Homo sapiens: one gene and its partner. The protein of the gene in region 2 purifies or fractionates together with the protein of the main gene of each other region. This does not show direct contact. Each region holds a gene or a part of one and is shown on either strand. Other genes may lie near its edges. The genes, in order: GLDC and SEMA3E.

What was found.
Region 1: the proteins of SEMA3E (region 2) and GLDC purify together in Homo sapiens (affinity purification with mass spectrometry; one large-scale study listed by BioGRID and IntAct). This does not show direct contact.

The regions. Positions count from the first base shown.
Region 1 is NC_000009.12:6,639,142-6,642,963, forward strand, and holds part of GLDC (glycine dehydrogenase (decarboxylating), mitochondrial precursor), read right to left. Parts: intron 524-3,822; exon of another isoform or gene 1-523. UniProt on the Homo sapiens protein: The glycine cleavage system catalyzes the degradation of glycine.
Region 2 is NC_000007.14:83,646,143-83,650,695, forward strand, and holds the start of SEMA3E (semaphorin-3E isoform 1 precursor), read right to left. Parts: upstream 2,998-4,553; 5' UTR 2,401-2,997; coding exon 2,286-2,400; intron 1-2,285. UniProt on the Homo sapiens protein: Plays an important role in signaling via the cell surface receptor PLXND1. Mediates reorganization of the actin cytoskeleton, leading to the retraction of cell projections.

The DNA of each region.
Region 1 (3,822 bases), on a different chromosome or scaffold from region 2:
TGGCGCCGAAAGCGAAGAAGGAAGCTCCTGCCCCTCCTAAAGCCGAAGCCAAAGAGAATGCTTTAAAGGCCAAGAAGGCAGTGTTGAAAGGTGTCCACAGCCACAAAAAAAAAGAAGATCCGCACATCACCCACCTTCCGGCGGTCCAAGACCCTGCGACTCCAGAGACAGCCCAAATATCCTCGGAAGAGCGCCCCCAGGAGAAACAAGCTTGACCACTATGCTATCATCAAGTTTACGCTGACCACTGAGTCGCCATGAAGAAGATGGAAGACAACAACACACTTGTGTTCATTGTGGATGTTAAAGTCAACAAGCACCAGATTAAACAGGCTGTGAAGAAGCTCTATGACAATGATGTGGCCAAGGGCAACACCCTGATTCGGCCTGATGGAGAGAAGAAGGTATATGTTCGACTGGCTCCTGATTATGATGCTTTGGATGTTGCCAACAAAATTGGGATCATCTAAACTGAGTCCAGCTGCCTAATTCTAAATATATATATATCTTTTCACCATAAAAAAAAAGTATATATATATATATATATGGACAAAACAGATTCTGCTGTGAGGGACTACATATACAAATAGACAATTACCAGACCATATTTAAAAATAGAACTTTCACCCACACCTGTCCAGGAAACTAACCCGCTTACTTAGAATAAACAATCAAGGAAGCCAGCCTGCTACAAGTTAGACTTACAGAGAAAGCCAGATTGCTATCTCTAGTGACAATCCAGGAAACCGAACAACAACTTCCCTAACAATTGGCCCCAAATGGCCAGAACTCGATTAATAACTGATAGCTTCCCTAATTTTTGTCCCACTTCCAACATAGGACCAACCAGGCTAAGCCAAACATGTACCCATAACCAATCACATCAGTTGCCCGACTTCTAGTAAATCCTCAGACAGCTTCCCTTGTAAACAACCTCCAATCAGAACACACCTAAAGGCTTCCCTTTTTTCCACAATAAAGCTTTCCTCTCCTCTGCCAATATGCAAGTCTGACTCCCTTGCTACAGCAAGCTCATTACAGCCTTTGTTTCTCTCATTTAGCTAATCTTTACTGTTACAGTCATTTAATGGAAATTTATTGGAATCATCCTAAAGAAGAAATAATAATTCCTATAAGCTGGGAATTGAATGAGTCGGGAATGGCCAAAGGAAAGCCTTGTCACAGACTGCGGGGCCTACAGGCAGGACCTGGCAATGGGCATCATCTGGCTAAAGACAAGTCGTGGCCTCGGCCTGGGGAACAGCTGCCACGGCCTAGTTGCCCCTGGGGTCAGTTCAGGAGAGTGCGCAACCCAACTAGGGTGACAAAGCCAACACCTGCAGCTGCATTACACAATGCTCCCTCCCTCCGCTCACTGCCCTCCATTAACCATTTAGTAGAAATCACTCTGGAACATTCAGCTGGCACAAGTCCATCATTCTGACAACTCATCTCCTCAGTTCTAGTTGAATAATGTGAACATTGGAGGGTTTAGTTTCTCCTCTCTCTTCCACAAGCAATGTGCAATTTTGTGTAAACTTTAATCCCTGCAGTTTATCTATGATTAGTTCAGTCTAGTTCAGTCTAGTTGCCTTGAGATGAATTCACTGAAAAGACTACACAGCGAGGCATACCATAGCTAAAAGTAACTGGCTTTGGTCATAAAGTAATTTTTAACTTTGAATTAATTATAAAATGAATACCTACACTGCAGAAAATTCCAAAACTGCAAAGTAATTAAAGGAAAGCTAAAACCACTAATAAGGGCACCATTCAGAGAAATCAGTGTTGCCAGTGACACATATCCTTCTAGTCCTTTTGTTGTTGTTGAGTGCGTGTGGATGGGGAATGCAGGATTCACTTGAGCAGGACAGGATTTTGAACTGAATAGCTTTGCTTGTTTCTCTGAATAATGACTTACTTAGCAGCCAGTTCATGATCAAAGTATTTTGTCAAGGCACTTTCTGAATTGTCCAAGAAGAGGGGGAGCATCCTTAGTGACTGATGAACCACCCGTCCTCCCCTGGTTCTGTCCGGCCATTCTGTCCTATACATGTTAATCCCACTACCTCCAGCAGCCTCCCCCAGATTTATCTAGCAGAGCATCACTGCTCATTCTTCAGTATTGCACTTCCGTGACCCCTTCCCTTGCCCTAGCAGCAGGCTTGAGTGTTCCCACGTCTGTGCTGCCAGGAAGCTGCTGCGTTTCCACTGGGGCAGTTGGCATATGGCAGGGTGATTCTAGTGCAACTGGGTTTGTGCACATCTGTAAACTGGATATTCCAGGTGAGTCAGGACAGAAGTTTTCCACTTTGTACACCCACGACCTTGCAAAGGACAAAATGAAGAGAGAGCAAAGTAGTGGATGGAGTGTGGACAGTGGAGCTGGGCTGCCTGGGTTTGAATTCTGCCTCCATCACTTACCAGCTATGACCTTGGGCAAGTCATGCATCATCTGAATATCACGGTTTCTTCATTTTTAAAACAGAAGTATTAATGGTATTTTCCTCATAGGGTTGTAATATACATTAATACATGAAAGCACGTTAAAGAGTGTCCAGTACATGGTAAGCACTACATAAATGTCTGAGATTACTGAGTTATGTGTAATAAGTAACCCAAGTATTTCCAAACTGATCACAATCTTTACTCTGCAATGAAGACATTTAACACTCCTATAACTAGCTCTCACTACAGTTTTCTCTGTACATGGCAAATAAATATTTAATCCAGAATTCCTTTCTGACTACACTAGAACACAGGCATTCACATGAAGCCAAGTTTGAGTAATGGTGCTCCACTATTAAATGGAAATGCTACTACCAGAGCTTACATGCACCAATTTGCTCTCCCCACCTGGAGAATATTCATTCACCATGACACGTGCACACCTCAGAGTCAAAATTCATCCTTTGCAGATGCATCCTCCTCCACTCTCCCAACACCCCCAGCTCACTATTCCAAGAAACAAGCTTTGTTGGAGAACTGGTCCATTTCAGGGAATGGGGGGACTTCTGATTGTGCAATATTTTCTGCGTGAATCATCCCAAACTAGATGGAACAAGCTCAAAATGTCACAGAAGCTGCTAGGTTTAAAATTTATATGGCATGGGCATGGTGGCTCATGCCTGTAATCCCAGCATTTTGGGAGGCCAAGGTGGGTGGATCACCTGAGGTCAGGAGTTCAAGACCAGCCTGGCCAACATGGAGAAACCCCATCTCTACTAAAAATACAAAAAATTAGCCGGGCATGGTGGTGCACGTCTGTAATCCCAGCTACTCAGGAGGCTGAGGCAGGAGAATGGCTTGAACCGGGGAGGCAGAGGTTGTAGTGAGTAGAGATCATGCCACTGCACTCCAGCCTGGGCAACAGAACAAGAATCCATTTCAAAAATAAAAATAAAAAATAAAAAAATTAAGTTTATATTCAAGTTGCAAATTACTTTTCAGGAGCCCACTTCCACAGTGAAGAATCAGAATCCCTTAATGTTCAAATTATTCAGCTGGAACCAAGAACTAAACTAAAAAAGGATACACAACTTTGCCATGTTTCCCAGGCTCTAATGCTCTGAAAAGAACACTTTATTTTAGAGTATATATATTATAAAAATAGCTAACCTAAACATTCCCTGACTTTGAAAGTCTCAGGAAGGGATTCACTTGTTCAAATATTCACCTAAAATACCCTGCTTTAAAGATACACAACTCTTCACTCTTCACACATCAAATGAATTAGGATTCTGATTTTTTCTTTTCTTCCTTTCTCTTTTTTTTTTAGACAGGGTCTCACTCTGTTACTCAGGTGGAAGTGCAGTGGAGCCA
Region 2 (4,553 bases):
GCCTCTTATATTGAAAGATTATATACTCATTTAAATATTAATTACTTAATTCACTCGCTACTGAACACTTGTCGTTACTGACATTAGTCAAGTCAGCAAAAGATTAATCTGTAATATCTTATTCCTAGTTTTTGAAGACTTCTAAAATATTCACTGAATTCCAGAGTCTAGAGAGATAAATGGGCTGTTCATATTGTATTGGTGGGACTGAATATCCCTCCTCTGACAGTATATATGCTCTTCTTTTCACTGAGGCCCCTGAGGTGCAGTAGGCATTTGCTGCTTCAGGTAGCATCTCCAGTGTGATCTCTTAACTGACTTTACTAACTAAATTGCACAAGTAGGAACATTCTATTTTCAGGTAACTCTCTCTATTCTGCCTTTGTATAAAAACATCATATTGTGCATTTTCAGCTGGTTCCATTAAATTCAAAGTTAAGGGAAATCCTGTGGGAGTTTTCAGTCTATTGTACATATAGATACTAGCGGTTTTACTCTCACACCATATGACACCACTCATAACATCAGTTACAATTATTTCTTTGAATATAAGTGACATAATAAAGATGAACTCGATAATAGTATTATGCATAACATTTACTTGTATCAGAGAACTTTGGTATTTTTTGATCAAATTATTAACTCTCTTATGAAATATTAAAATGTGACCTGTTGGAAAACACACTGATATTGAACCATGAAAACACAAGTACCCCAATAATAGGGTATAAAATGTTAATACTAGATATAACAGAATTGTAGCTTGCAAAAACTGGCAGCTTATCTACTTGTCTACATAAGAAAAACAATCAATTATATTTTTTTGCATTTTTATTTGTCCATATTCCATCACATCAAATTTGTACATGTTGACATCTTTGATGATAAACTTCTTAGAAATAGGCATTTTGATACATACCATGATACATCTTCCCAAGTTAAAAGATTAGTGTTAATTCTGGGCACTATATTTTAAACACTTTACCAATTTAGTATCAATGGATTTCTTAAATTTATATTATCTACTGGATAGTATTATAGGAAATCTATTTAAACTAAGAAAACATCCACTATTCTAAAAATGAAAAAATTTCTATAGTCAACATTTACTGAAGATTGTCCAATAAAAAGACAAAAAGGCCAAACGTGTCACATAAAATTGAGGACTCCCTTTTTGTTTCTCCTGATAAATATTCTACCTGTACTTAGAAAATACAAGCTTCTGTTCTTTCTACAGTGGGGGACAATTTAAAAGCTTACACAATTGAAAAATGATTCTTATGTAATCCTGAGTATTACATCTGCTATCTGTCTCAATGTGTCAATGGCTAGTGATAATAAATACTTCTTTGCTGACAATTTATTCCGAATTTATATTAAGTCAGCAAAGTCACTTTCTCTGAGCATGGTTTTGTTTATTATTTGTTTGTTTACAGGAGGAATTACCAAACCTATTCATGACTGGCTTGTATTGGTCCTGATGCAAAATCTATCTTTTAATCATTTATTTATGAGTATGATGTTGCTTTACAAGACAATTGTAGAATGAAATATTTAAACATTTGCTGTTAGATCTTCATTAAGGCAATATAAATTTACACTACAAATGCTAGTGAATACTAATACTTTAATCCATATTAGCCATTTTACAAGCATTGTCATAAACTATTTTCCTTTGCCACACATGAAAAAATTCTAATAATCAATTCAACTGGAAAACTAATTTATATTAGTTGTTAATCATTTTAATTACATGATGATGACAGTTATGGGTAGGGCATCATTTTTCTCCTCGGGATTTTTATTTTCTCCTCTTACCTCCATTATGGAAACAAAACAAAACAAAAACAAAAAGAACAAATTGCACCCCTATTTCTATAGCCCTTTCCCAGCATCCTTGTTTCTCATATGCATAAACTGATATTTAAATATCTACTGTTAACTTGGTGGATTCAGCCTCTCAAGGCTATTTTCAACCTGCTTCCTCCCTTCCTGTGTTCCGCGGGCTAGTGAGTGAACTCCTTATTGATAAAATCCAATGTTTACAGACAAAAATAACATCTCTAAGTTGACATGTGATTTTGCACTGTTTTCAGATGAGGTGAGTATGACACATTAATCAGAGGTACTTAGAATTTTAGGTCAGTTTTGCAATAAATTTTTCAGGTGCATTTTAAAGGTCTTTGAAGACCATAAGCCTATGTTAATGTTAAACGACTTTTTTTTTCTTTTTTCTTTTTCTTTTTTTTTTTTTTTAAACAAAAGGATCTGGAAAGGTAACCTACCTTTATGTGACAGGCGTAACCGGGGGTGGGTAGTATCAGCTGTATGACCTCCTGTCCAAAGCTCCAGTAAGTAACCCCACAGGAGCAAGGTGATAATGTGCCCCGCGGATGCCATGCTGCCGTGTTCACCGTCCAAGCCCTCGCTCCTCACTTTAAGGAGGGTCTGAGTTTTACTTAGGACTTCCCTCCAGGGGCAGCGTGCGAGAGGCTTTGTCAGAAATCGAACGCGTTGTCATCAGAAAGCACAGTTCCGAAGTGCCATTTGTCAGGCTGTATTTGGCTATGTAAAACCTTTCTTTCCTCGGGACAGTTGTTTATAAGCCGGGAGCAAGAGGACATTCCAAAGAGTGAGTCTTCAGAGCCATGTCCTGTCTAGAGCGCTCTTCAGCAACTACGCCGGTAGATTCAGGAAGAAGCTGTATTTTTCAGTCACTTGGGCAAAGCTGTTCATTCAGAAAAAAAAAAAAAAAAGAGAGAAAAAAACAAAACCGAGCACACGCACTCCCTTCTCCCGTGGAGGTCCTCTCTTCGGGCTCCTGGAAGCCTCTCAGAAGTCAGCCTCTTGCACTGACTTGCCAAACTGCTAGTTTTAATTCACCTTTCACCTTGCTAATTAAAAACAAGAAGTGCCATTCCCTCTAGGAGTCGCAGGATCCACCCAGCAGGGATGCAGTCTGTCAGTGGCTGTTTACAGGAAAGTTCAGGCAGGGTTGAGCAGCGTACTTGCTGTTTCTAGGAAGTATTTCTGGTCCACGTGCCTCGCTCCCATCCTCCCTCCCAGTCATAACCAGCCCCACGTTACTCAGCAGCAGGAGAGAAGTCCACATTTTGATGGGGGAAATGGGGAGTTCGGGAGGGGTGATGACATAGACTGATTATTTAAGAATAGGTGACAGACAAGGATGTGGCATCAGAAAGCGCTTTTAAATTCTTACCAAGATAAATTGACCTAAGTTGAATAAATCCAACTTCTTTTGAAAATAATCTATTTGTAACCATCCAGAATCCAAATTCTGTTTTTCACTGTTGCCATAAGGTTTTTTTCAAAATTAAGTCTTTTTCTATTGCTTATATCTTAGGGATGTTATTTTTAAACTCTTTTAAGAAAAGTGTGTTTCAAGAGCCTGAAAAAAAAAAGTTCATCTGTGACTGTCTCATAAATTTGATAGAAATGATAAATTATTTACTTAAGCAAATTGGTCAAATGAAATTAAAGGCAAATCCTTTGTCCTAAAGCAATTCCTAAATTTTACTTCAAATTTAGGAATGTTGAAGTAATTTCCCCCAGGTAAGGTAACTGGCAAAGTTGAGATTCACCACCCAAGGGATTTCTATAAAGCAGGTATTAGAAAACTTAGGATGTGCAATACCTTAGGATTCAACTGCTATGGACTTCCAGAGTTGATTTTCCAAGGCACTGTGTTTGTGTAAATAAGCTTAACACAATAGGTCAACTTTACAATCTACCTTCAATCAATCTCAAAAACTAAGCCAAACACTCAGGAGCTGTTGGCATGGAAATGAATGGTATTATGTTAAGATACCAATAAACTTGAATAGATATTTGATTTGATAGTGGAGAGTTAAATGGTAAACACTGATCTCAACTATGATAACTTTTTCTTATTCTGTATTTTAAATGCTAATAGTTAAAAACTTTTTGAGAATTATGTTTTAAAATCACGAAACTATAACAAAAAGATAACATGTGTCACCCTGATATTTTTGCATTATATAGAAGCATATGTACAGCCAGGCATTCTCTACCCATTTTTCTAATCATGAGATGTTCTTGTACAAGCAGAGTATATTTAGCAAAATGTAAATGTCACTGGACATTATAAATAATTAGATTTCCAAGGTCTACAAAAGATAGCAAACTCTAAACATTATTTAACAGTAAAATGACATGAAGTTATTTAGAGACTTTTAACCTGGAATGCTTGCATATTTTAAAAGCCAGTCTGATGAGCTACAGACCTAAAGGTTGCTCTAAATGTGATACATTGTACCTTCAAAATTCTCTTTTGCTTTCTTCTAGGATGGAAACAAATGACAAAATAAATAGCAGCTCTTATATGTGTTATCTAATAGTAGGATTATAGGAAAAGTAAATGTGGTGCCTACACCTTTTATTGCAAATTCATGGCTACTCTCACATAGCTGAAATTCTACTTAAGATTGCATAGTGCCTGTCCTAACTCTACTATAGAACTGAGACAATGTGAGACATTACAATCATTTCATTAGTACACAAAATATGCACCT